Homo sapiens: one gene and its partners. The protein of the gene in region 1 purifies or fractionates together with the protein of each later gene. This does not show direct contact. Each region holds a gene or a part of one and is shown on either strand. Other genes may lie near its edges. The genes, in order: HSF2, FBXO24, PRCC, ASAH1, PLXNA3, ECI2 and DSG3.

Region 1 (3,500 bases):
GCTCTACATTCTTCATTTATGAGTCTGGGTCTCTTCTAAATTTCACAATGTGTTTTTCATCAAAATTGTGTTTCTGTTAGGAAGAAAGTAGAGGAGAGTAGAGATAGAGTAGGAAGCTAGCAGTCTCCATGGATAAATTTATATTTTATCTATATGTCTTCTGGGTTTATTATGTCATGTCTCCAAAAGCTTGCTTGTAAAGAGTAAGATGACATCGAGCTCTTATTTTTCTTCCCAAATGGAAAATTTCTTAATCCTTTTCTTTCCTGATTATCCCCCCATTTGAATGCCATCTTGACTTACTACCTGGTAAATTCTCAGATAGATTTGCTGGTTCATCTGTCCTCTCTAGTCAGTCCATTCATCTATGTAATCACTTCTTCTTTTGTACTAAATTGTTAACACTATAATTTTATAATCTGTATTGGGTAGGGTTAAAATACTCCTCCCCATTGTTCTCAATATTTTCTTTCCTGTTGTTATGTAATTATTTTTACAAATGAACTTATGTACCTAACATTTGGTTATGATAGCATCAATTCATCTTTACTCCACAAATCATTTTTTTAATTAAGACAGAATTTAATGTATTGGTTAATTTAGAGAGAATTGACACCTTTACAATACTGCATTTGTCTTCCTTTTGTATTTCTATAGTTTTAATATTTTTAAAGTTCCTGTATATTTTTAAATTTTATTTTTAGATACTTAACATTTTTCTATTATTATTGGGATATTTTATTCCATTTTAGTTTCTAATTTTTTTAATTGTGGTAAAATATACATAACATAAAATTAACCATTTTAAGTGCATTAAGTTAGATTCACATTGTTAGGCAACCATTACCACCATCCATCTCCAGAACAATTTTTATCTTTCCACACTGAAACTTTATACCCATTTCACAATAACTTCTAACTCCTTCCTCCCCGCAGCCCCTGACAACCACCATTCTACTTTTTGTCTCTGAAATTGGCTATTATGGAAACTTCATATAAGGGGAATTGTACAGTATTTGTTCTTTTGTGACTGGCTTATTTCACAGCATAATGTTTTCAAAGTTCTTTTCATGTTGTAGCTTGTGAGAATTTCCTTTTTTAGGTGAAATAATATTTCATTGCATGTATATACCATACTTTATCCATATATATTTCACCATGTGTTGGTGGATACTGAAGTTACTTCTACCTTTTGCCTGTTGTGAAAAATGCTACTGTGAACATGGGGTACAAATATCTGTTCAAGTCGTTGCTTTTATGGTTTTTTTTGTTTTGTTTTTTTGTTGTTGTTTTTGGGTTTTTTTTTTTTTTTTGAGTATATACCTAGGAATGGAATTGCTGGATTATATGTTCTTTGTTTAATTTTTAAAGGAACTATCATAGTGTTTTCCACAGCAACCACACTATTTTAACATTCCCACCAATAATGCACCAATATTCCAATTTCTCCACTTCCTTGTGAACACTTGTTTTATGCGTTTTTGATAATAGCCATTCTAATGGGTGTGCAGTGGTATATTGTTTTAGTTTTGATTTTCATTTCCCTAATGATTTGTGTTACTGACCATCTTTTTATTTGCTTATTGGAAGTTTGTATATCTTCTTTGAAGAAATATCTACTCACATCCTTGCTCGTTTTTTATCGGGTTGTTTGGGTTTTTTTTGTCTTTTGTTCTTTTTGAATTTTAAGAGTTATGTCTATGTTCTGGATATTAACTCCTGAGGTATATGATTTGCACTTTCTTCTTTCCATTCTGAGGGTTGCCTTTTCAGTCTGTTGGTAGTCTTTAGATTTGATGTAGTTCCATTTGTCTATTTTTGCTTTTGTTGCCTGTACTTTTAGTGTTACATTTAATAAATCATTGCCAAGTCTAATGTCATGCTCTACTATTGTTAAAAGTTTCTTTAGCTCTTGTGTTTAGGTCTTTGATTGATTTGAAGTTAGTTTTTATATATGTTATCAGATAAGGGTCTAACTTCATTTTTTTGTATGTAGATATCCAGTTTTCCCAGCACCATTTGTTGAAAAGACTGTCCTTTTTTTATTGAATGGTCTTGACACTGTTGTCAAAAATCCTTTGGCAGGGTTTATTTCTGGGCTGTCTATTTTATTTCATTGATCTATATGTTTGTCAGTATGCCAGTACCATGCTACTTTGATTACTTTATTTTTGTAGTGTTTCCAGGTGTTTGTTTTTTGTAGAGAAAAACACTAGTGACTTTTAATATTAATTTAGTAACCACGTATCTTACTGAATTCTTAAAGGGTTTTTAAATTGATTTTACAAAGATACAATTATGTCTACTATGTCTACTGCAAATAATTATAAAATGGTACTTCCTCTCAAAATCTTTTTTTTTTATTTTGGTCTTAATTGCACTAGTTTTAAAACAATGTTAATTATGCTGTCTACATAATTGTATTTCATTTTCTCATTGCTGGTTTAATGGAAGTTCTAATATTTCACCATAGAGTGTGATGTGGCATTTGGTTTGAGATATGTTCCTAAACTTTTGAGGTTGACATCAAAAAGCTTAGTTGCAATTTGTTGCTTAATTGCAATTTTGTTTCTTGTTCCTGTTGTCAAGAATAGAATGTTGGTCTGAAGACATCAAGGAGGGACTGGACTACTCAAGACAGTTGTGGGATGTATAAATATATCACCATGTGTCATAGGAACTTAACTAATTTACTTTTTCTTTTTTTTTTTCCCCTTGCAGAATGGCCAAAGTTTTCTGGTCTTGGATGAGCAACGATTTGCAAAAGAAATTCTTCCCAAATATTTCAAGCACAATAATATGGCAAGCTTTGTGAGGCAACTGAATATGTGTGAGTATGGACAGCAGTTTATTGGAGTACCATTATCAGCTACTGATGAAGCCATTTTTTTTCCCATTAGGGTGGTAAAGGAAAATTATTCCATACAAGCACCACCAAATTTTGACTTGTTTATTTTAGTCATTTGAATTTTGAATATTTTTCAGATGGTTTCCGTAAAGTAGTACATATCGACTCTGGAATTGTAAAGCAAGAAAGAGATGGTCCTGTAGAATTTCAGCATCCTTACTTCAAACAAGGACAGGATGACTTGTTGGAGAACATTAAAAGGAAGGTGAGCTATTGTGAACGTGAGCTAATTAGGGTATTGACCTGGAGTGTGCTTGGCCAAGATTTTTATTTCAGCTGTTGAAAGTACAGAAATGCACAACTGTTCCTTGTTGGGATGAATTAGGATAATAAAGTTTTACTTGTTTCCCTGTATTTTTTTCCTAAGTTAGCTTAAAAAAAAAAAAAAGTTTAAGTTCCTGCTAGAATATGAGCTCCCTGGAAGACTTTTTCTATAGTTTGTAATTGTACATCCAGTACCTACAATAAGTCTCTTCTAATAATATAAATATGCCCACATAGTAGGCATTCAGAAATACATTCAGTAATATATTTTTTAATGCATAATATCTTTTGGTAAAATAAGATATTTTACTAAATCTGTAAAAGGGGT
Region 2 (3,500 bases), on another chromosome or scaffold:
GAGGTATTTACGGTAAACTGTGTCACACCTTGGGTCCGAGGCAAACTGGGGGAAAAGATGAGGGCGTCTGGGATCTAGAGTTTCAAAATGGGATGGGGCTGGGGCAGCTGGATCCTGGGGTGGGAAGTGAAATGCTTGGGTCCAGAGTTGGGAAATGAGCCCTTGATTTCAGGTTCCTATGTGGGAGGGCAGAAGTCATAGGAAAGACACCTCAAGACTGATGGGGGCCTGGGTCCTCAAAAGAGAGGTGGTGATATGGTTAGGCTCTGTGCCCCCACCCAAATCTCATCTCGAATTGTAATACCCAGTGGGAGGTGATTGGCTCACGGGGGCAATTTCCCCCATGTTGTTTTCGTGATAGTGGGTTCTCACGAGGTCTGACGGATTTATAAGGCAGTTTTCCCTGCTCTTGCTTGTGTGCTCTCGCCTGCTGCCATGTAAGACGTGCCTCTTTCCCTTCTGCCATGATTGTAAGTTTCCTGAGGCCTCCCCAGTCATGTGGAACTATGAGTCAATTAAACCTCTTTGCCTTATAAATTACCCGGTCTCAGGTATGTCTTTTTTTTTCGAGACGGAGTCTCCCTCTTGTTGCCCAGGCTGGAGTGCAAGGGTGCGATCTCAGCTCACTGCAGCCTCTGCCTCCCAAGTTCAAGCAATTCTCCTGCCTCAGCCTCCCAAGTAGCTGGAATTATAGGCACCCACCACCACACCCAGCTAATTTTTGTATTTTTAGTAGAGACGGGTTTCGCCATTTGGCCAGGCTGGTCTCGAACTCCTGGTCTCAGCTGATCCGCCTGCCTCAGCCTCCCAAAGTGCTAGGATTACAGGTGTAAGCCACTGCACCCGGCCTCTGGTACGTCTTTATAGCAGTGTGAAAATGGACTAATACAGGTGGGCTCTCAGCTGCCAGGGTTCTGCTACTCACATCCTTGGCTCCACGACACAACACAACATAGCGACAGGCCCGCTTCCACTGCATCTGGCCGAGGGTGGAGACCAGGGCATTTTTGAGGAAGAAGAGGGTCCCCACGTAGTCAAGAATGAAGACGTGATCCTTGGTGGGCAAGAAGCGGCGGTAGCCGTGGGCTAGCAAGGGGGCCACGCTCTTGCTGAGACATCGGCGGCGGCCTCCAAATGCCTGGAAATACAGGCCCTTCGTGTCTGGAGGAAGGAAGGAGATGGAAGGTTCAAGGGATGAGATGACACGAGGGAGATGAGTTGGAGCTTGGGTAGATTTCTTAGACACGCTGGTTTGTAGTTCCTCCCCATCCCCAGGACAGGGGAACAAACAGACCCCTTATGAAGGAGATGTGGAAAATAAGCTTAGATTATACTCGACATGTGAACTTTAGTCTCCACCCCACCTCAGCCCAGGGTCAAACATTTGCTTCTTAGTGAGCAGTTCTTTGGTGCAACCTTGCATCAGTGATGTTGAGGAAAACTCTAAGAATAAAGACACAGAGGCTGCGTGCGGCATCCACCCCCCTCACCCTGAGCCCCTCCTCCCATCCTCACAGCTCAGTGAATTTTTGCACGCCTGTAATCCCAGCACTTTGGGAGCCCAGGAGTTTGAGACCAGCCTGGGCAACGTGGCAAAACCCCATCTCTACTAAAAATACAAAAATTATCCGGGTGTGGTGGCGGGAGCCTGTAATCCCAGCTACTCAGGAGGCTGAGGCACGAGAATACTTGAACCCGGGAGGTGGAGGTTGCATTGAGCCAAGATTGCACCACTGTGCTCCAGCCTGGGTGACAGAGCAAGACCCTGTCTCAAAAAAAAAAAAAAAAAAAAAAAATCAAAGAAAAAGAAAGAAAAGAGAAGAGACAGAAACAGGAGTGAAAAGGAATGATTGATGAAGGCCGGTCATCCTCCCTCACCCCTAGCTTTGGATCTGTTTTCTGGGTCCCCCTTCTCTTTTAATCTCCCAGTGAGTGTAAGAAGTACACCCTGGGGGATCCCTGGAGGGGAAGAGGGTTTATGGCATGGTTCTCAGGCTAGGGGTGATTTTGTCCTTCAAGGGCATTGGTTGTCACAATTAAGGGGGATGCTGCTGGCCATCTGGTGGGTGGAGGCCAGGGTTGCTGCTTAAACATCCCACCATGCAGAGGACAGCTCCCCACATCAAGGAATTATTTTGCCCAGAATATCAACAGTGAGTTCAGAAGCCTTGGGTTAGAGGAGGGAAAACTCCAGGTTTGGGGAGTGAGGGATGCCTCTAGGGAAAAAGCGGGAAGTGTCTGTGTACAGAGGGAGACTTGGCAGGGAGGCCGCTAACGGGGGCTGTGGGTGGATTCCGAAGACTTGGAGGAAGTACTCAAGGGAGAATGTTTGAACTGGACCCGTTTCTTCCGGAGAAAGGGGCCCTGGAAGCACTGTTGGGAGTGTGGGGGTCATCAGGGGACTTTAGAGAGCAGGAAGGCTAAGGCGGGACAGAGGCAAGGAGAACGGGAGGTTCTGGGGAAGGTGTACAGTTCAGAATGGCAGCTCTCTTCCAGGGCCGGACTCCAGAACCCTGATCTTGGAGGCGCGGACTGAGTCTGCGACAGATGCGTCTCCACACGCCTTCCCCATCGCACACTTCGTGGAAGTAGCGGCAGGTCTGGCCGAGGGCAACAAGGTCTCTGACTGGGAGGAATGAGATGATATGCTCCACCTGGGAGGGAGGAGGGAAGAAGCGGGGAGTCTTTGGTGGCCCCTCGGTGATCTGGCCCCCAATCCTATTATTCTCAATCCCCCTCCCCAAGGACTCACCAGCTCTGGGGGGAACAACTGGATGGAAATCGGATTTCCTTTCCCCCTCTTCTCTTCAACCCCAAGCTCCGAGCCACAAGAAGGGCAGCTTCTCTTCACCTACCCAAGAAGGGGTGCATAGGGTCCCATGAGGGTCCCACATCCTTTTTTCCCTTCTCTCCGCCTACCTTGGGGCTCATCTGACTCTAGCTGGGCACAGTTATTTCCTCCCCTCTCTCTCCAGACCCATCCCTAACTTCTCCAAATAACTCCTCCCGATCTCCTGCGGCCAATCCCCCTCACCCGGAGCCCCTCCTCCCGTCCACACAGCCTGGTGAATTTTTGCAGCTTCCGTCTCTGGCTTCCCCTGACCATCCTGATTGCCCCCTCCCTGCTCCTGCCCTCCTGTCTCCTAGGCCCTTGGCCCCCCCGTTCCTGCTGGCTTTCCCACACCATGTCCCCAGCCTAGGCTTGGGGGACCTCTGAGGCCCCTCTGCCTCCTAGGCCCCTCCCCCATGGAGTCTGGGGCTAACAAACCTCTCTGTGACCTCACTGTTTGGCCACTGTGACCTGTTCCCTTTAATCTTGCCCAGGACCCATCTCTTAGACAGCTCCTGGGTTCTAGCTCAGTTCTAGCCATCACATGGCTCAAGGGATATGCATTTTACTGGAGAAATAAAGTGTGAATTACTGGTAGGTGACATCTTTATTTCAGGGAGCAGGAGGAAGTTTTCCTATTTGAGGCCCTTTTAGCACTAACTCTGTAGAG
Region 3 (3,500 bases), on another chromosome or scaffold:
GTGAAACCCCGTCTCTACTAAAAATACAAAAATTAAATTAGCGGGCATGGTGGAATGTGCCTGTAGTCCCAGCTATTTGGGAGGCTGAGGTGGGAGAGTTGCTTGAACCTGGGAGGCGGAGGTTGCAGTGAGTCAAGATCGTGCCACTGCACTCCAGCCTGGGCAACAGAGCAAGACTCCGTCTCAAAAAATATAAAATACAAATACAAAAATTAGCTGGGCATGTTAGGGTGGCACACATCTGTAGTCCCAGCTACTCGGGAGGCTGAGGCAGGAGAATCACTTGAACTCGGGAGGCAGAGGTTGCAGCTGAGCCAAGATTGTGCCACTGCACTCCAGCCTGGGCAACAGAGTGAGATTCCTTCTCCAAAAAAAAAAAAAAAAGGCCAAAAACCTACCTATCAGGTACTATGCTCATCACCTGGGGTGACAAAATAATCTGTACACCAAACCCGTGACATGCAATTTACCCATGTAACAAACCTGTACATGTACCTCCTGAACCTAAAATAAAGGTTAGGAAGAAAAAAAAACAGATATATATATATATATATATATATATATATATATATATATATATATATCAATCACAAATATGTACAAATATTATGGATCAATAAAAAATAAATAGATTGTTTTCAGAATAAAGATGTCATTTATGTGGTTCACCCTGTCACACTTTAAGACTTGGGCAATTTAGATTAATATGGTTCAGAATAAAGGTATGTTCTGTGGCCTAATAAATAGAGAAGGTTAATTTAGCCAAAGTGACACCACAGAGGCTGTATCACTAGCTCAAAGCTCTCCTTGACCACCATGTTCCAACATTCCCTCGCCTGCCCTCTGTGCCTCCTACCCACCTGATAATAAGCACCAGCGGCATTGGCATCGCCATATGTGGAAAACTGATTGTAGCTGTAGTCGTCCCCAGGCTTAGGCATCCAAGGGGCCCCACTTGAACCTGCTGCCATCTTGAATTCAAGGGGGGCATTGGCTGCATCGTCCTGGAAAGCCGGCTCTGGTTCCGTGCCTGGAGGCAGCTCTTCAGGGACAGTGGGGATGGGGTAAGGGTATGGCTCAACTCCAGGTGGCTCAGCCTTTTCAGGGAGGGAGAAAAAGTTTTCGGGGGCTACTTCCTCATCACTGTCGTCTTCTTCCTGCGTGATCTGCTTTGTCACCTGCAGGGCAGCACTCTTGGCAGCAGCCTTGATAGCAGAGGGCGACGGAGTGGTGGTTGTGGTGCCCACAACAGGGGCAAGAGAGGAAGTCTTGGTCTTAGAAGCCAGTCTGGAGGGCTTAGTATCAGGGGAGCCATCCGAGGGTTTGCGGGAGAAGGCATGGGGCAGGAGCAACCTGTTAGTCTCTTTCACAGTCAGGTTTTTAGGTTGGGGAAGCAAGGCAGACAAACCAGTCCCCTCACTGGATCCCTGGTGAGCCCAGGTGTGGGATAGGAGGAAAGAAAGATGACAAGTGAGATTTTATGTACTAGCAACACCAAAAACAACAGTTACAGATAAGTTCTCTAGCCTAAAATCTTACCAGCCCTTGTTTCTTCCTTACCTCCGTCCACTCAGACCACCTAATCTGGGCTTGACTCCTGCTACTTCAGGCCTTTCTGCGGGCTGCTTCTCCCAAGGTGAGGTATCATTCCTCTTCTCTTCCATCCCAACCCAGCTCCACTGCCCTCTTCCACAGAGCGAGCCTTCCTCAACTCTGTGTCTTCAACAAATACGATGCTCTTAACCTCACATCGTCCTTCCTCCCCAAAAGCCCAGGTCTCTCCAGCTCATCACTCAACCTCTCTCCGTGTCCTGAAGGGACCTCTTAACACAAGAACCCTCTCCTTCCTTTGGAATGCTACCCAAAATCAAGAACAAGGTTCTGTCTAAAAGAAACATTCATACTGTTGCAAAAGTCCCTTCCCGGCTGGGCAGTGGTGGCTCACGCCTGTAATCCCAGCACTTTGGGAGACCAAGGTGGGCGGATCATGAGGTCAGGAGTTTGAGACCAGCCTGACCAACATACTGAAGGCCCGTCTCTATTAAAAATACAAAAATTAGCCAGGCATGGTGGTGGGTGCCTGTAATCTCAGCTACTTGGGAGGCTGAGGCAGAAGAATCGCTTGAACCCAGGAAGCGGAGGTTGCAGTGAGCCGAGATCATGCCACTGTACTCCAGCTTGGGTGACAGAGTGAGACCCCTTCTCAAAAAAAAAAAAAAGTCCCTTCCCCTGACCAAGGGAGAAAGCTAACCCTGAGCGAGACCCCTCAGCAGCGCTAATGACGCCTAGGAAAGAGTGGAGGCCCAGCACGTTCAACAAGGAAGCAGTGAGTCCAGAGACTGCAAGGGGCCTGACACAGCTTTTTCCAACCCTTTAAATTGCTCTCCTTGTCACCATCCCCAAAGCAAAGGAAACAGGATTTCCTTTCTCTTTTTTTTCCCCCCCTTAGATAGGAACCTGAAGCCTCAGCTTGGGTGGGGCAGCTCCCTTAGGACTTAAGTGCTAAGGGTATTTTTTTTTTTTGGTCGGAGTCTCGCTCTATCACCCAGGATGGAGTGCAGTGACATGATCTTGGCTCACTGCAACCTCCGCCTCCCAGGTTCAAGCAATTCTCTGCCTCAGCCTCCCGAGTAGCTGGGATTATAGGTGCTCACCACCACGCATGCCTGGCTAATTTTTGTATTTTTAGTAGAGACGGGGTTTTACCATCTTGGCCAGGCTGGTCTTCAACACCTGACCTTATGATCCACCCACCTCGGCCTCCCAAAGTGCTGGGATTACAGGCATGAGCCACAGCGCCCGGCCTAAGGGTATTTTTTACTTAAGACCATAGAATTCTACATTAGCTGACTGAAAGGGTTTTTATAAGATCATCTTCAGTTCTTTTCAGACTTACTCAGCTTGCAAATTTCCCTAATCTAAGACATTACTGCTTTTTACAAAAATATGTAATTTTAGTATCTTTAGTGCCATCATACATACAGAGGTAGTTTTGTCAGCCAGAAATGAGTGTATATATATATATGCTGTATTTTTTTAATCTGAAGAAAGTCCCCTACCCTACCCAAGGAAAGCCCTATAGATGTGGCATATTAGCTTGTTAATGCCAGAGTCAAGCATTTAACTTTTGATCTGTAAGCTCACTGGCCCAGCCCATCCAGAGTTCCTATTACCCAAAAGAATCTCTCAGATTCTGCTTTCTCTATGCTAAAAGGCCCGTTTGGCCTAACTGTAGAGCTAAGGGAAATGCCAATTGGAAAAGGAGAATGGAATAAGGTCACTGTGTCACTGTCTTAGAGTACTAGTGTACTCCAGCCTTCTCAGCCAAGAAATGCCCAGAGTAAATAAGACATTTGAGTCAAGCCACACAGAACTGCTCATGTGGAGACTGGGCTCTTCTTGCTGTGTGTGTGTTCACAGATTTGGTCCAGCCTGGAAGCGCCCAGAGGCTCCGGTTCATAGGAACCACACTGAGGTACAGGGCGGAGCACACCCTCAGG
Region 4 (2,308 bases), on another chromosome or scaffold:
CACAAGGCCTGGTACATAAATGGATAAGCAAGAGCTCTAATTAAGATGAGTGACTGAGGAGCTCGATGTGTGAAGGAATACAGGTAGGATTCAGCCTTCCATTCACAATCAAACTCCCGAAAACTTGGCAGGGAAATTAGATGGAGCCCATGGTTTGGATCCAACCTGGACCTTATTTTTTTATAGTATTTCTAAAAATAGAGTCTCATTAATGTCCAATGGCTACTAAGTTTTGTCCTCTCAAAATTAAAATAGCACTTGCCATTATCCAGTAGGAACTACAGTCAGCATTTTGGTTAATATCCTCCCAGTCATCTTTTGATATTCTAGATGTGTATCTAGTTATGCATAAGTACATATATAAAGTGTTATATAAACAGGCTCATCCTGTATATCCTATTTTAAAACTGCTTTACCACTAAACAATTACTTCCTAAAATCTTAATACCTGTTATTTCTTGTAAACTTTGATTTACTCCGGAGAAATCGGTCTGAAACAATTAGCATCTCACCTCTTTACTATCAGGCATATCAAAGGTTATTACATTAACAAAAAAATACATCAAGTTGACCTGACTTCATTTATGTAAGAGGTAGAAAATCTGAGTAAAGTTTTTTTTTCATTAATTAAATCCTATTTTAATGTAAATCCTCTTATAATTCCTCGTTTCACTAAAGTAATCTTGGAATCACTAAAGTTTTGTGGAAGCACCACCTATCTGGGGGAAAAACTGCCTTTAAACACCTGCAAATTGGGTTGATAGTATCTGGTTAAGAGGTGGTATCAGTCATGTAAGAGTAAGATTGTGACCGTTTAGTCATATTTAATAACCCACTTACATAACCCTTGTTATTTAATTCAGATACGATGTTCAGCTTGTATTTCTTGATAATAACCCCCCTCCTCCAAACCAACACAGATGTACACACCCAATCAGCGTGCATGACTGCTGACTGGCACTCTTTCCAGTGACTGTTTATTGAGTGTCAGGAACACAACTGTGATTATACAAAATGAAGTGGACAAACGGTCTTGCACAAATGACGTACATTTCACAGTTAATCGTGAAGGTTAGAAAGGTTAACAAGTTCTATTAGTACTTTTCATAAGCAGTTTGATTTCTGAAAAATACAGTAACATAATTTTAGTAACTACTAAAATTTCTTTAAAACTCCCTATCAATCTGAAGAACAAACTAAAAACCTGTTTATTACATGAATGCTACTTATGAGAATTTAAAATATGGGTTCACTTCCTATTTTCCACAAGTCTTTGACTTGTTTATTTACTAAATTAACAGAACGTGGGATGCAGTTTTTTAAGTTAGCAACTTCCTTAGGGTTACTGGGAAGTAGAGTAATTATGAAAAAGGGAACACTTCAATTATTGTATAAAAGATTGCTTTGCATACTGATTACTTCTTGAACCCCAAAAAGTGCTATTTAGAGGCAAGGGCCCATTTTGTGCCCATTAAAAGAAATATACAGGTGAATGTCTGTCTCATCCCTCTAATCATATGTAATAAAATTATATCGCTGTCAATAACAGCAAAGATAATGATATATTAATTTTAACAGCAGTTAGAACCAGAAGGAAAAGGCTGTTATACAGAAAAACATACAAATATGTAGGTAGAAGTGAAAAACTGAAGAATGTGGAGTGTTTACTGTCCCGTTACTCACACAGACGTGCTGGATTCAACACCCACGCTGAATCTCCATTTATTCCACGGAGGTGGAGTTCACCATGGTTCGACTGCCCACCAGATCCCCAAATGTCAAAGTGAAACAAAACTCAGTGAATTCTAGATGACTGTTTTACTTCCCCTAAAGAAGTTATCTGTAAATAAGAAAAATCAACTGATAGGGGGAAAAAAAAAAGATCTGTCATTTGTCAACAGATGGACGAAGACAAGCTATTGACTCAAAGAGAACCTGCCGCGAGTCTTAGTCTTTGGAAGGTCAGACAGCTGCAGTGTTCGGTCACATGGAGATGGTGTCTTCATGTCTCAGAGGCCGCATTCTGTAGGCCAGACGTGTGCTCACCAACCTATACAAGGGTCAGGGCAGTCCCGCAGGTAAGTTTCGAATTGACCTTTGGTAACATCTATCAAGGTTGTGTATACGGTCAGCTGAAAGAAAAGTTATTTTTACTTTAAGGACGTTTTCAATTCAGAGATGTTCTGATATATATTAGCATTTCTATACTTGTAGAATTTGCTTTAGAAGTTATTTAATATTAAATAATATAACTTAATATATGCAAAGCATGTTATATAATGTATATATTTATATTAATATAGTATAA
Region 5 (4,143 bases), on another chromosome or scaffold:
AGACAGCATCCGGTGAGGCCCTGTGCCAACATCACGGGCCACCGCCAGCTTCCCTCTGCATCCCCCTCCCGCCTGGATGATCACAGAGGCCCAGGCCAGAAAGGCTGCAGAGGGCAGGGTGACCAGCCTCCCTGCACACAGGGGACCCCCGCAACCTGGGTTCAGGCTGTCATCCCACCCTCCGCAACCTGTCTGCATCCCAGACACTGAGGAGCCGAAAGTCCCCTCTCAGAAAGAACAGGGCTCTTCTGGGAGGCAGAGCCAGGACTGGGTGGAGGAAGAAGAGAAGGAAGGCTCACGCACGAGACTGAACATGTCCGCGCTGTCTTCATCACTGATGAGCTTGCGGGAGCTCAAGGTGGGGAAGTACTCCGACTTGCCGTCGACAGCAGTGCCCACAAACAGCTTGCTGGGCCCCTGGCCCTGCTCCACAATGACACCAGCCATGGAGTCGGGCTCCTGGGCCCCCGACAGGTAGTGCTCCTTGCGGTGGTGCGGCTCACCCAGCTTGAAGAGGTCGTCCAGACGCAGGAACTGGCAGATGCCCTGCCAGATGCTGCCGCAGGCCACCAGGCGGCGGGCCGCATAGTCTATGAGCAGCAGCTTGTTGATGTTGTCCACGGGGGCCAGGCGGTGGGCACACACGCGCATGCTGGGGGGCGGGTAGCAGCGAGCGTTGTCCTCGACGGGCCCCGTGACATGGGCCCGCAGCTCAGTCAGGTTGGGGGCCAGCTTAAAGACTCGGTTCACTGCGCCCACGAACACCTCCCCAGTCACCCGGTGCACAGCCAGGTGGGTAAGCGTGGTGTCTGTCACCACGAAGGCACGGAAGGGCCTGTTGCCCAGGGCCCCCCCCACGGCAAGGAAGAGCAGCAGGAGGAGGCAGACAGAGGGCATGGCCGGCAGCCGCGCCTGGGGACAGGCCTAGGGAGAGACGGTGTGTGGGAGTCAGAGGCCTCGAGCCACAGAGGGCTGGGCCATTCACCCACCACCCCGCCAAAGCCCCAGATGGCCACCGTGACAGGGAGAGAGGAGGGGCCTCCGCCAGGGCGCATGAGTGAGCAGCCAGCGAGGGCAGGCTTGGGGGCCATCAATCGTCCCTCAGCCCCCATGCTGGAAAGGAGCCAGGAGGCCTCGCCTCAGCTGGGCCACACCCAAGGGGGTAGCAGAGCAGATGCTGGAACTGGGACCCCAGATGCCACATCTCAGAGCCCGGGGCAACCAACAGCAAAGAACAGCAAGCCCCAGGCCTCTGGGCTGCCCCCAACGCCTGAGCTGAGGGGAGAGGGAGGCAGGCACAGAATAATCGCAAGCTGGGGGAGAGGGGCAGGGCCAGGAACACCACCTGGAGTGGCACTGCCACCAGGAGCCCTGGGACAGAGGTCTGGGGAATGGAGGCCTGATGCAGGATCCAGCACCACCATGTCCCCTGCAGGGGCCCCAGCTGCCTCCCCGACAAGGGCCTCAGCTGGCCATCCAGGAGCCCGCTGTCTGGCCTCCCCGATGCAACACAAAGCCAAGTCGCGCCTGCCCCTCAGCCACGCACCCAGACACACATCAGTCAAGCTCTGCTCAGCCACAGCCTGCATGGCTCCCCCTCCAGACCCAGGGGTTCACTGGAGAAGGGAATGTACAGGGGGCCCTACCTGCCCTTTGGAGTCCCAGGAGCCTTACAAGAGGAGGAGCAATGTCCCCAAATACAGTCAAGGCCTTGGAGAGACAGGGCAGGAGCCACAGGGACAGTGCTGGGACTGGCACTTAGTCCCCAGGCCACACCCAGTCAGCCCCAGGCTGCTAAGACAGCAGAGCAGTGTCGTGGCAGCCAACAGGGCAGGGCTCAGCGCTACCCTCTCAGTGCCAGAGCTCCCGGGGGAGATAGGAGGTACCCAGCTTGAGGGCGGGAGGCGGGGGGGGAGCGGGGGGTGGTGCAGGGAACCAAACCAAGGAGGCACAGGAGAGAGAAAGGAAAAATAAGGCATTTGCCAGGAACAAGCAGCGGGCCCAGCTTGAAACTGCAAAGTTTCAGCTCAGATTGATCACCTCTCCAGGGCTCTTTTGTCAGCTGGACCCCTCATGCAACAGCCGGAGAAGAAAGGAAGGCCAAAGAAAAGAGAGGCCACATCCTGTCTTCACCTCCTCTACACCCCGGGAACACAAGCCTAGGAACAGGCTGGGGACAGGTCGGGAGGGAGACCTGGGGAGGCAGTTTCAGGCCCAGCCCCCACCTGTAAGTGGCAACCTCGGGCATCACAGGTACAGCTGGGCCAGCAGAGAGCCTGAGGAAGGGGCAGCCCCACGCAGAGACGGGGGTCCAGCGGCCGCCCCCCACACCCCCCACCGTGCTGCTGGTCCGGTTTGCCCGGGCCCCATCAGGGCACCCCTCGGCGGACTCGCGGAGCCCTTAGCGGGAGGGAAGTACAGCGTTGATCCTCCGAGGGGCCGCTCCCCTGCGACAAAGGGTCCTCTTTGGGCAGGGTGTTGGTCTTGGGTTGGCGTCCCCACCATGCGGGGCACAAGGAGTCGGGCAGGCCGGCGCCGACGGGCAGGGATAGGGCCTGACCCCCACAGGCCGAGCCGGACCCCCGGGCTGCCGGAGCCCCGGGCCCCGAGCTGTTTGGCCCCGCACGGACGGCGACGATGACGGCCACCTACCTGTCCCTCCGCTGGCTCCGGGTGGCCGCCCTCTGGCCACGTGGACGCGCCCCCGAGCCCCACCGCGGCCCCGCTCGCACGTCCCCACGGCCTCGCCCCGCGCCCCGGGCCCCAAGCGCGCAGCCGCCGCCGCCGCCGCCCACACACTGGGCTGGCCCGGGGGCCGCCGGAGCCTTTTAAACCCGGACCGTACCACCGCGCGGGGCGGGGGCGTCCGGGGACGCCCGGCCGAGGGGGACGCGGCGGCAGGGGACGCAGGCGGGGCCGCTGCTCCCCGGGGCCAGGGACCTCGCGCGCAGCCCTGACCCCCGCGACCTGAAGGGGGACCCGCCCGGCCAGCCGACCCCCTTCGCTCGATGGCCGCGTCCGCGGCGCGCGCCTCCCCCGCGCCCCGGCTCCCCGCCCGCCGCCTCGGGCGACCCCGGAACCCGCGCGCGCCCGCGCCACACCCCCTCGGGCCTGGGGCGCGCGTCCGCCTCGCCCCACCCTGGCGCTCGGAGACGCGCCCGGGGTCACCTGCCACCGGGGCGCGGCCTCGCTGGTCCCGGCCTCTCAGGTGCACCCCCGCCGAGGAGTCGCGTCCCCAGCTCAAGACACGCCCCCGACGGTCTCTAACCCGGAGGGCCTGCGGGACAGCCGTCCAAACCAGCCCCTTCCCCGGCGACCCTGAACCGAGGGCTTTCTTCCTTCCCTTGCTTTCTTTTTCCTTTTCTTTTTTTGTTTTCTTTTGACACAGGGTCTCGCTCTGTCACCCGGGCTGGAGTGCAGTGGTGAGATCATAGCTCACTGCAGCCTCGACCGCCCCAGGCTCAAACGATGCTCCCGCCTCAGCCTCCCAAAGTGCTGGGACTACAGGTGTGAGCCACCGCGCCCCGTTAAGGTTTTCTTTTTCATTTCCCTGATGACTAATGGTGTTCAGCATCTTTTCATGTGCTTGCTGGCCTTTTGTATATGATCTCTGAAGAAATGTCTATTCAAGTCATTTGCCCATTTTTATTAAACACATATATGGAGAGATAGATAGATAGACAGATTTTTCCCCCCAAGTTGAGGTCGCGCTCTATCACCCAGGCTGCAGTGTAGCGGCATTGGATCATGGCTCACTGCAGCCTCGACTTCCTGGGCTCAAGGGATCCTCCTGCCTCAGCCTCCCAGGTAGCTGGGACCACAGGCAAGTGCCACCACGCCTGGCTAACTTTTCCTATTCTTGTAGAGAGAGACAGGGTCTTGCTACACTGCCCAGGCTAGTCTTGAACTCCTGGGCTTAAGTAATCCTCCTGCCTCAGCCTTCCAAAGTACTGGCATATGCTGGGTGCAGTGACTCAAGCCTGTAATCCCAGCATTTTGGAAGGCTGAAGTGAGCGGATCACCTGAGGTCAGGAGTTCGAGACCAGCCTGGCCAACATGGCAAAACCCCATCTCTACAAAAAATACAAAAATTAGCCGGACATGGTGTCATATGCCTGTAGTCCCAGCTACTCAGGAGGCTGA
Region 6 (3,500 bases), about 120 Mb from region 1:
GATTATCAGGGTTTCTCCCTCCCTCCCTCCCTTCCTCCCTTCCTTCCTTCCTTCTTTTTTGAGATGGAGTCTCATTGCGAGGCCCAGGCTAGAGTGCAATAGCATGATCTTGGCTCAACCTCCACCTCCCCGGTTCAAAAGATTCTCCTGCCCCAGCCTCCTGAGTAGCTGGGACTATAGGTGCGCACCACCATGCCCAGCTAATTTTTTGTATCTTTAGTAGAGATGGAGTTTCACCATGTTGGCCAGGCTGGTCTTGAACTCCTGACCTCAAGTGATCTGCCCACCTTGGCCTCCCAAAGTGCTGGGATTACAGGGGTGAGCCACCACGACTGGCTATCAGGGTTTCAATTTAGGTTTTGCTGCTTATTTGTTATGTGAACTTGAGTAAGTTACTTCTTAATCTAATTATTTTATTGTTAAGTAATGATAACAGTAGGCTCCCTGTGAGAATTAAATAAACTTCTGTGTGGAGAGTGCTGGCACTCATTAGACACTCTGTACAGAGTAGCTATTATTATTATAGTTGTAGAGAAATGAGTCAGGGGAAAGTGGAAATAAAGTTTGAGCATTAAATGCTTTATTAGTTGAATGACACATATCCTACTTCATGAAATTCTGAAGATGATTTTAAAGTGAGTATGCTCTTTCTGCCACAATGGAGGTTATTGACCCAATGGTCATAGTCCTCTGAAATTTTAGTCCCAGTTGAGCACCAAGCATCCAATTAATTCCCTATAATTTTTTTCAAGAAGAAGGGGCTAAGGTAGTTATTTTATTATCATTCTAGTTCAGTGAGAGATTCAAAGACTAACGTTACCGAGTGAAGCAGCTACTTTAAAGCGGAGCTGGGTGATAATTTGTTTAAGATGAAGTCCTTCTCTCCTTTCTCCCTATACTTATAAAAAATGAAGCCCCCGTGCAAGCAGAAAGACTTACTTTCATGTCTAAGTGACATGAAGATACTTCTGGGAGCAGTCTACACCAACCTTAGATGGCTTCTATGCAAATTCTCTCATAGCAACATGTTTCATTTATATTCATTTATTTCTGCTTCCATTATTAGGAAAATCACAGTGCCTTCTGGGTATATCAGAACCTACCTGAAATTCACAAACTCTAAACAATGAATGCTCAACTCTGTTGTATGAAGTAGCCACAATTACCAACCTTCCTGCACAAATCAAACAAGAGATATCTTAAAATAGGAATGATGCTGAAACTCTACAGCTTTTGTGTGAAACACATAGAAGAAGAAAGTAAAACAGGACAAACTCCGTGGGCAGGTAACATTACCTCAGTGTTTATGGCATTTTTCTTTTTGGGCCGGTTGAACATGATCTTTGTGATGCCATCTTCGGAGGTCACCACCAGAGTTTCAAACCCAGTTGATTTCCTGTCTGTTCCAGGCTCCACCTGACTAGAGGATTCCAATGAAGGACTCAAACTGGACACCAAATCCACATAGTTCTGCCTGGCAGCTTCCTGAACGGACGATGACAAACAACCTCAGCCCATGGTCAATGAATAAGCACTTTGAGAAAGTTACTATACTAATAACTAACACCTTGCAATGAAGAAAGAATAGAAGCACATCAAGATCTTGAAGACTCCATTTACAATGGCTTAATGAGAAGCACAAACTTCTTTAGAAGTACAGCAAATAAAAGCACAGTAACTAGTAAACTCACCTTGGGCAGGCTGCCAAGGGCATTCCATGCGTCCCATTTGGCCTTGTTGATCAAGTCAAATACACCTGGTTTGGGCATGTTACAAGGTCCTTCAGTGGCCTGTGAAAAGGAGAGGGGCAATATGTTCAAATGTCCATGTAAACTAGACCCCTAAATATTTAAGATCCATAAAATCTGTAAGTACATGAATGCCTCCCCCAAATCCTTTCACAGGGTATGTAAATTGATCTGAATTTTCCCCTCCAGTCTCTTTGATGTTGTTGCCAAAAATGCACAAACAGAAAAAAGACTGGAAATAAATTATAACTGCCTGTCTATGAAAATAATGCAGGATAAAGGTTTTGGGGAAGTATTTTCTAAAAAAATCTAATGGTTCATTAGTTTTATATTGGTAATCACATTTTCCACAAACAATCAAAATATTCAAGCAAACAATCTTTACAAGGAACTAGTCAACAAATACTTGAAAACCCACAGCATATTCCAAAAGCCCATCTGAAGGTACAAAAAAAAACACCACTAATTCAGTGGTGGACTTTTGGTACCTGGGTAACAAAACTGTAGCTGAGGGGCTAGGGTGGGGCTATCAGAGCTACTGGTTCTTAGGAAACCTAACTGAAGAACATGTAAGTAAAAAGCAAAAAGGAATTAAATTTTATTTTTGAGGCTAGGTGGAGTGGGTGTTTTGAGATGAATAAAATATCCCACTCAGCTACTTTTCAGAAATAGCAATTTAAAATTCCAGTTAAAATTTTTAAAATTTTATAATACAGTTAGAGAGGAAAGAAGAAAGAGTCTTTGAAAAACAAGCCAGGTGTGGTGGCTCACACCTGTAATCTCAGCACTTTGGGAGGCTGAGGTGGGTGGATCACCTGAGGTCAGGAGTTCGAGACCAGCCTGACCAATATGGTAAAACCCCATCTCTACTAAAAATACAAAAATTAGCCAGGCATGGTGGCAGGTTCCTGTAATTCCAGCTGCTTGGGAGGCTGAGGCAGAAGGATTGCCTGAACCTGGGAGGCAGAGGTTGCAGTGAGCTGAGATGGTGCCGCTGCACTCTACCCTGCGTGACAGAGCAAAACTCTGTCTCAAAAAAACAAAATAAAAACAAAAGAAAAAAGAAAAAAGAAAAAGGCAGTAAAGGAGGTTATGAATTTCTTTAGACAGAGATAGTGTCATCTGGCAAGAGTTGGCCAACCTAGAAGTTAGAGGGAACACAGTCCACAGGATAAGGGCTTGCCTTTGTCTCCTGACTGTCCTCAATGCTAACACCAATTGCAAGGCTGGAGGGCACCCAGGACCACCCTCAAGTGCAACAATTTGCTAGAAAGACACCCAGAACTCACTGCAAGCTGTTAAACGCACAATTAATAGTTTATTAAGGGAAAGGATAGAGATTAGAATCATCCAAGGGAGGACACACACAGGATGGAGTCTGGGGCAGTAGCAAATGTGGAGTTTCCATTGTCCTTTCCCCATGGAGTCAGCATAGGGCACCTCTACCAGAATTGATGTGACAGTACACAGGGAGTCCTGCCAACCAGAGATGCTCAGCTCATCCAGTCTCGGTGTCCAGAGTTTTTAACAGGGCTCCATCACCTGTGCATGACTGTATAACCTGAAGCCCCCACCCTAAATCACATCGTTAAGACAATCCAGGCAAATAAAGACTCCTACCAGTCATTAGAGATTCACTTCCCAGAAGCTGAGGGCAAAGCCACACCTCTTCTGGGGCAAGGTTAAATTTTTTACTATACACACCCATATGAAAGAGAAGCTCATACCCATCATAGGACAGAAAAATAGATA
Region 7 (3,500 bases), on another chromosome or scaffold:
ATTTAAGAATTTCTTAGTTGTGGCTTAAGCTTGGAGGACTCTTCTGGCAGCGTAAATATCTTTCTGTGCACATCCTTGGCAATAAAGATTAATGTCATTCTCATGTGAACTGACCAAGAGTGAAATACTTATTCTTGAAAGCAGGTGTTTCCCACACTTTGTTGTCAGTGGCCCCACTGCCACCTCTGCCCTGCCAAGGCCACCTGAATCCTAATGTTTCAACTCTCTTCACTTAGAGGCAGCTTAGTGAGGGGTTTAAGCATGCAGCCTCCGAAGTCAGATTCTAGGGTTTAAATTTCGGCTGTACCACTTAACAGCTATGTAATGTTGGGCATGTAATATCATCCTTCTTTGCTCAGTTAACTCATCCATAAAATGGGGGAATAAATAGTATCTACATCATAGGTTGTTATGAGGATTGAATTAATATAGGTAAAGGCCCAACTCCTTAATACTATTTTTTTAGGGTTTAAGTTTCAACATATGAATTTTTTTGGGGGGACACACACATTCAGACCATAACAATTAATCTCCCAATCCTCTCCAGGGGCCACTGTAATGCACTGCACACTTGTCCTTTATTTTCCAGTCTCATGTCACAGCTCGAAATCTGACCTTCATCATCTCTCTTGAACTTTTACAATGACCTCTTAAGTGTTCTTTCCTTTCTAATTTACACTGTTATACTGTACACACTGTTGCCAGGGTTGTCTTTCTAAAATACAAATATGATCATGTTAGTCTTTTATTCAAATGCTTTTAGCAGCTCCTCTTTCTCATAGGATAAAGTACAAACACCACAGCATGTGTATGTAGCCCTTTCAAATTAGTCCCAATGCATTCTCTGTTGCTCCTTCACTTTCCACAATTTCCCCGCGCTTTAGCCTTCGAAGGCTGTGTGATTCCTAAAACAGAAAATACTAAGTGTTTTCTGGCCTTGGCTGATGCTGTCAATTTTTGGAAATGCCTTTTCCATTTTTTATACTGATTATATCCTAATCATTCTTCAAGGCTCAATTGAATGATTCCTCTATTCCGTGAAATGTTCTGTAATTACCCCTTTGTAGTAATTTCTATTACAGCTTTATCATGGTATTTTTCCCCTATAGTTAGACATGCATGAAAACCAAAATCAAGTTTCCTTTTCAGCTAGAAGCTAGCATAGTGATTCACATAGAGGTACTTAAAAATTTCTGGTTCTTGAACTTGATTAATACGATATTGAAAAACCAAATCTCTGAGTGTCAATTTCAGCTCTTAAACTAAATGGTGTATAATAACTTTAGAATAGTAAATGCTTTTGGAGAATAAGGAAGGGAAAAATATAGCATGTGTGGCAATTAGCTGTATCTATAGCAATTTATTTCTTTTTAAAAAAAGGGACCTGAAAAAATATTGCAAAACATTCATATCTGTTCAGTTGAAGTGATGGTTGTATGTGTAGTTGTCTACACATTTTCTCTACTTTTTGTGGTTTTAAAATTAATAATCATATAATTAATTTTAACTCTAAAACTGTGATTTTTATAATAAATTAAGAAAGTGTGAATTTAGCAAGGATTTCTCTTGTTTATACAAGAATTAGTCAGGAAGTTCTTTTAAATAGAGACCTCTTACAATCAAATACTATTTGATTTATATGATTTTGATTCAAATACAACTTTTCAGAAACCTATCTATTGAATAAATTTTACCTTTATTGGAAAAGGATACTTACGCATAGTTTTCTAAATGTGTTTAATAAACTTAGTTATATTAAATGTGAAAGTATTAAAGGGGATGCATATTCAGATGGCAATCTATTTTGAGGAAATGCTAGATGAAGCAATAACTTCTCAGAACCTAGCTATCTTAATAGCATATGATATTAATATTAATATCATATGCTATTGATTAATATTAGTGGGGGTTAATTAATTAATTAATATTAATAGCATGTGGTGATATCTTAATAGCCTATGATACCCTATTTGTATTTCCCTAACTTTGTTTGACTAGTGTTCTCTTTTTATCTTAGAATCTCATGAGATGTAATGAATATAGAGAAAACATCTTAGAAAGTGCCACACTCTTGGATAAAGCCATAATTTTGACCATGAACATTACTAACAGTGTGTAGAAAGTCTTCATGATTTGCTTTTCTCTTGATTATCTTGTGCTGTCTTCTAAATGTCTGACATATATAACTTGTGTTGCTATATGAATATAGACTGTTAGCAAGCGACATGTTACACATTTCAGATTCTTTCTGAAAATGCCATTTTCCCCTAGCTTTACCTATAAAACATCAGAGAATATTCTTTCCCCATTGCACAGATGAGCAGGGCAGCATGGAGGCCTTTGCAAATGAGGACACCTGGTCCAACAGAGAATGAAACATTGGCTACTCACACAGCAGCAGCAGGAGACCAAGGAGCAGCAGGCCGATGGCGGCAGGCCCCAGCCTCCCTGAGTGCGGCCTGCCATACCTGGTCCCAGGGCTTGTGGTTGGGTAAGAAGTTCCACAGATGCCCCTGTTGTCACACTGACAGACTTCCAGTGTCAAGCTGCGTGGCATCTCACACCGATTGTTCTGACTGTCTGTAAGTACCAGGGAGATGTGGTATACTCCAGGAGGTATCTGTTCCTGGGCTCTGAGGAGGGCCGAGGTAGCTGTAGAGAAAGAATCATGCAAATCAACAGTAGGACGAAGTGTCTTTTCAGTCTATTTTGTGTTGCTATAACAGAATATCACAGACTGGATAATTCATAAAGAAAACACATTTATTTCTCACAGTTTTGAAGGTTGGGAAGCTCAATATCAAGGTGTCAGAATCTGACAAAGGCCTTTGGACTTCATCATCCCACGGTGGAAGGTGGAAGGACAAGAGAGCATGAGAGCACGTGGGGGCTGAACTCACCCTTATAACAACTCACTCTTACTGTAATGAACCCACTCCCATGGTAACACCATTAATCCATGCATGAGGACAGAGCTCTCATGACCTCATTTCCTCTTACAGGTCTCACCTCTCAACACTACTGCAGTGGGGATTAAGTTTTCAACACATGAGCTTTGGAAGACCTATTCCAACCACAGCAGTGTCTTACACTCTTACTACTTATTTTCATTAGCAGAGTTAGTTGCCACAAACAATAGGGTTGATAATAGAGTGATGTTTGAGCAGTGATGAGGGCTATAATGGGTTCAAGTGGGTAAATCTGTCTACACCTGCCTCCTTGTCCTCTCTGTTGCAGGTAGGCCAATTATTCTCTCCCATGAAACTCAGTTCTACTCTGCTTTTCCCACTAAAGAAGATGGGCGACATCATTTAGAGTCAGGTACTCCTCTTCTGGGGCTTAACCACTCTCTTGTATGTCTGCACCAATCCTTGGACTTGTGTGGCCCTTTGAGTGTTAGTGTTCCTGACTTTGTGTTCTTGTGTTTTACTTATCAAGACTTTCAACTTTGGCTGCTACTACCTCAAGTGCTCTTCCTGGTTCTTATCCCGTGAGCTGCA

Evidence for each region.
Region 2: the proteins of HSF2 (region 1) and FBXO24 purify together in Homo sapiens (affinity purification with a luminescence readout; one large-scale study listed by IntAct). This does not show direct contact.
Region 3: the proteins of HSF2 (region 1) and PRCC purify together in Homo sapiens (affinity purification with mass spectrometry; one large-scale study listed by BioGRID and IntAct). This does not show direct contact.
Region 4: the proteins of HSF2 (region 1) and ASAH1 purify together in Homo sapiens (affinity purification with mass spectrometry; 2 studies listed by BioGRID and IntAct, with this or other methods). This does not show direct contact.
Region 5: the proteins of HSF2 (region 1) and PLXNA3 purify together in Homo sapiens (affinity purification with mass spectrometry; one large-scale study listed by BioGRID and IntAct). This does not show direct contact.
Region 6: the proteins of HSF2 (region 1) and ECI2 purify together in Homo sapiens (affinity purification with mass spectrometry; one large-scale study listed by BioGRID and IntAct). This does not show direct contact.
Region 7: the proteins of HSF2 (region 1) and DSG3 purify together in Homo sapiens (affinity purification with mass spectrometry; one large-scale study listed by BioGRID and IntAct). This does not show direct contact.

The regions. Positions count from the first base shown.
Region 1 is NC_000006.12:122,409,652-122,413,151, forward strand, and holds part of HSF2 (heat shock factor protein 2), read left to right. Parts: intron 1-2,721; coding exon 2,722-2,830; intron 2,831-2,985; coding exon 2,986-3,113; intron 3,114-3,500. UniProt on the Homo sapiens protein: DNA-binding protein that specifically binds heat shock promoter elements (HSE) and activates transcription. In higher eukaryotes, HSF is unable to bind to the HSE unless the cells are heat shocked.
Region 2 is NC_000007.14:100,589,328-100,592,827, reverse strand, and holds part of FBXO24 (F-box only protein 24), read right to left. Parts: intron 3,428-3,500; exon of another isoform or gene 3,188-3,427; coding exon of another isoform or gene 3,035-3,187; exon of another isoform or gene 2,852-3,034; coding exon 2,753-2,851; exon of another isoform or gene 2,746-2,752; intron 2,655-2,745; coding exon 2,471-2,654; intron 1,162-2,470; coding exon 926-1,161; intron 46-925; coding exon 1-45. UniProt on the Homo sapiens protein: Substrate-recognition component of the SCF (SKP1-CUL1-F-box protein)-type E3 ubiquitin ligase complex.
Region 3 is NC_000001.11:156,784,535-156,788,034, reverse strand, and holds part of PRCC (proline-rich protein PRCC), read right to left. Parts: intron 1,428-3,500; coding exon 861-1,427; intron 1-860. UniProt on the Homo sapiens protein: May regulate cell cycle progression through interaction with MAD2L2.
Region 4 is NC_000008.11:18,055,492-18,057,799, forward strand, and holds the end of ASAH1 (acid ceramidase isoform a preproprotein), read right to left. Parts: intron 2,133-2,308; coding exon 2,043-2,132; 3' UTR 501-2,042; downstream 1-500. UniProt on the Homo sapiens protein: Lysosomal ceramidase that hydrolyzes sphingolipid ceramides into sphingosine and free fatty acids at acidic pH.
Region 5 is NC_000023.11:154,456,938-154,461,080, reverse strand, and holds the start of PLXNA3 (plexin-A3 precursor), read right to left. Parts: upstream 2,801-4,143; 5' UTR 2,653-2,800; intron 925-2,652; 5' UTR 898-924; coding exon 304-897; intron 1-303. UniProt on the Homo sapiens protein: Coreceptor for SEMA3A and SEMA3F. Necessary for signaling by class 3 semaphorins and subsequent remodeling of the cytoskeleton. Plays a role in axon guidance in the developing nervous system.
Region 6 is NC_000006.12:4,129,076-4,132,575, forward strand, and holds part of ECI2 (enoyl-CoA delta isomerase 2), read right to left. Parts: intron 1,791-3,500; coding exon 1,692-1,790; intron 1,691-1,691; exon of another isoform or gene 1,486-1,690; coding exon 1,297-1,485; intron 1,287-1,296; exon of another isoform or gene 1,067-1,286; intron 1-1,066. UniProt on the Homo sapiens protein: Able to isomerize both 3-cis and 3-trans double bonds into the 2-trans form in a range of enoyl-CoA species. Has a preference for 3-trans substrates.
Region 7 is NC_000018.10:31,468,241-31,471,740, reverse strand, and holds part of DSG3 (desmoglein-3 preproprotein), read right to left. Parts: intron 2,653-3,500; coding exon 2,392-2,652; intron 1-2,391. UniProt on the Homo sapiens protein: A component of desmosome cell-cell junctions which are required for positive regulation of cellular adhesion. Required for adherens and desmosome junction assembly in response to mechanical force in keratinocytes.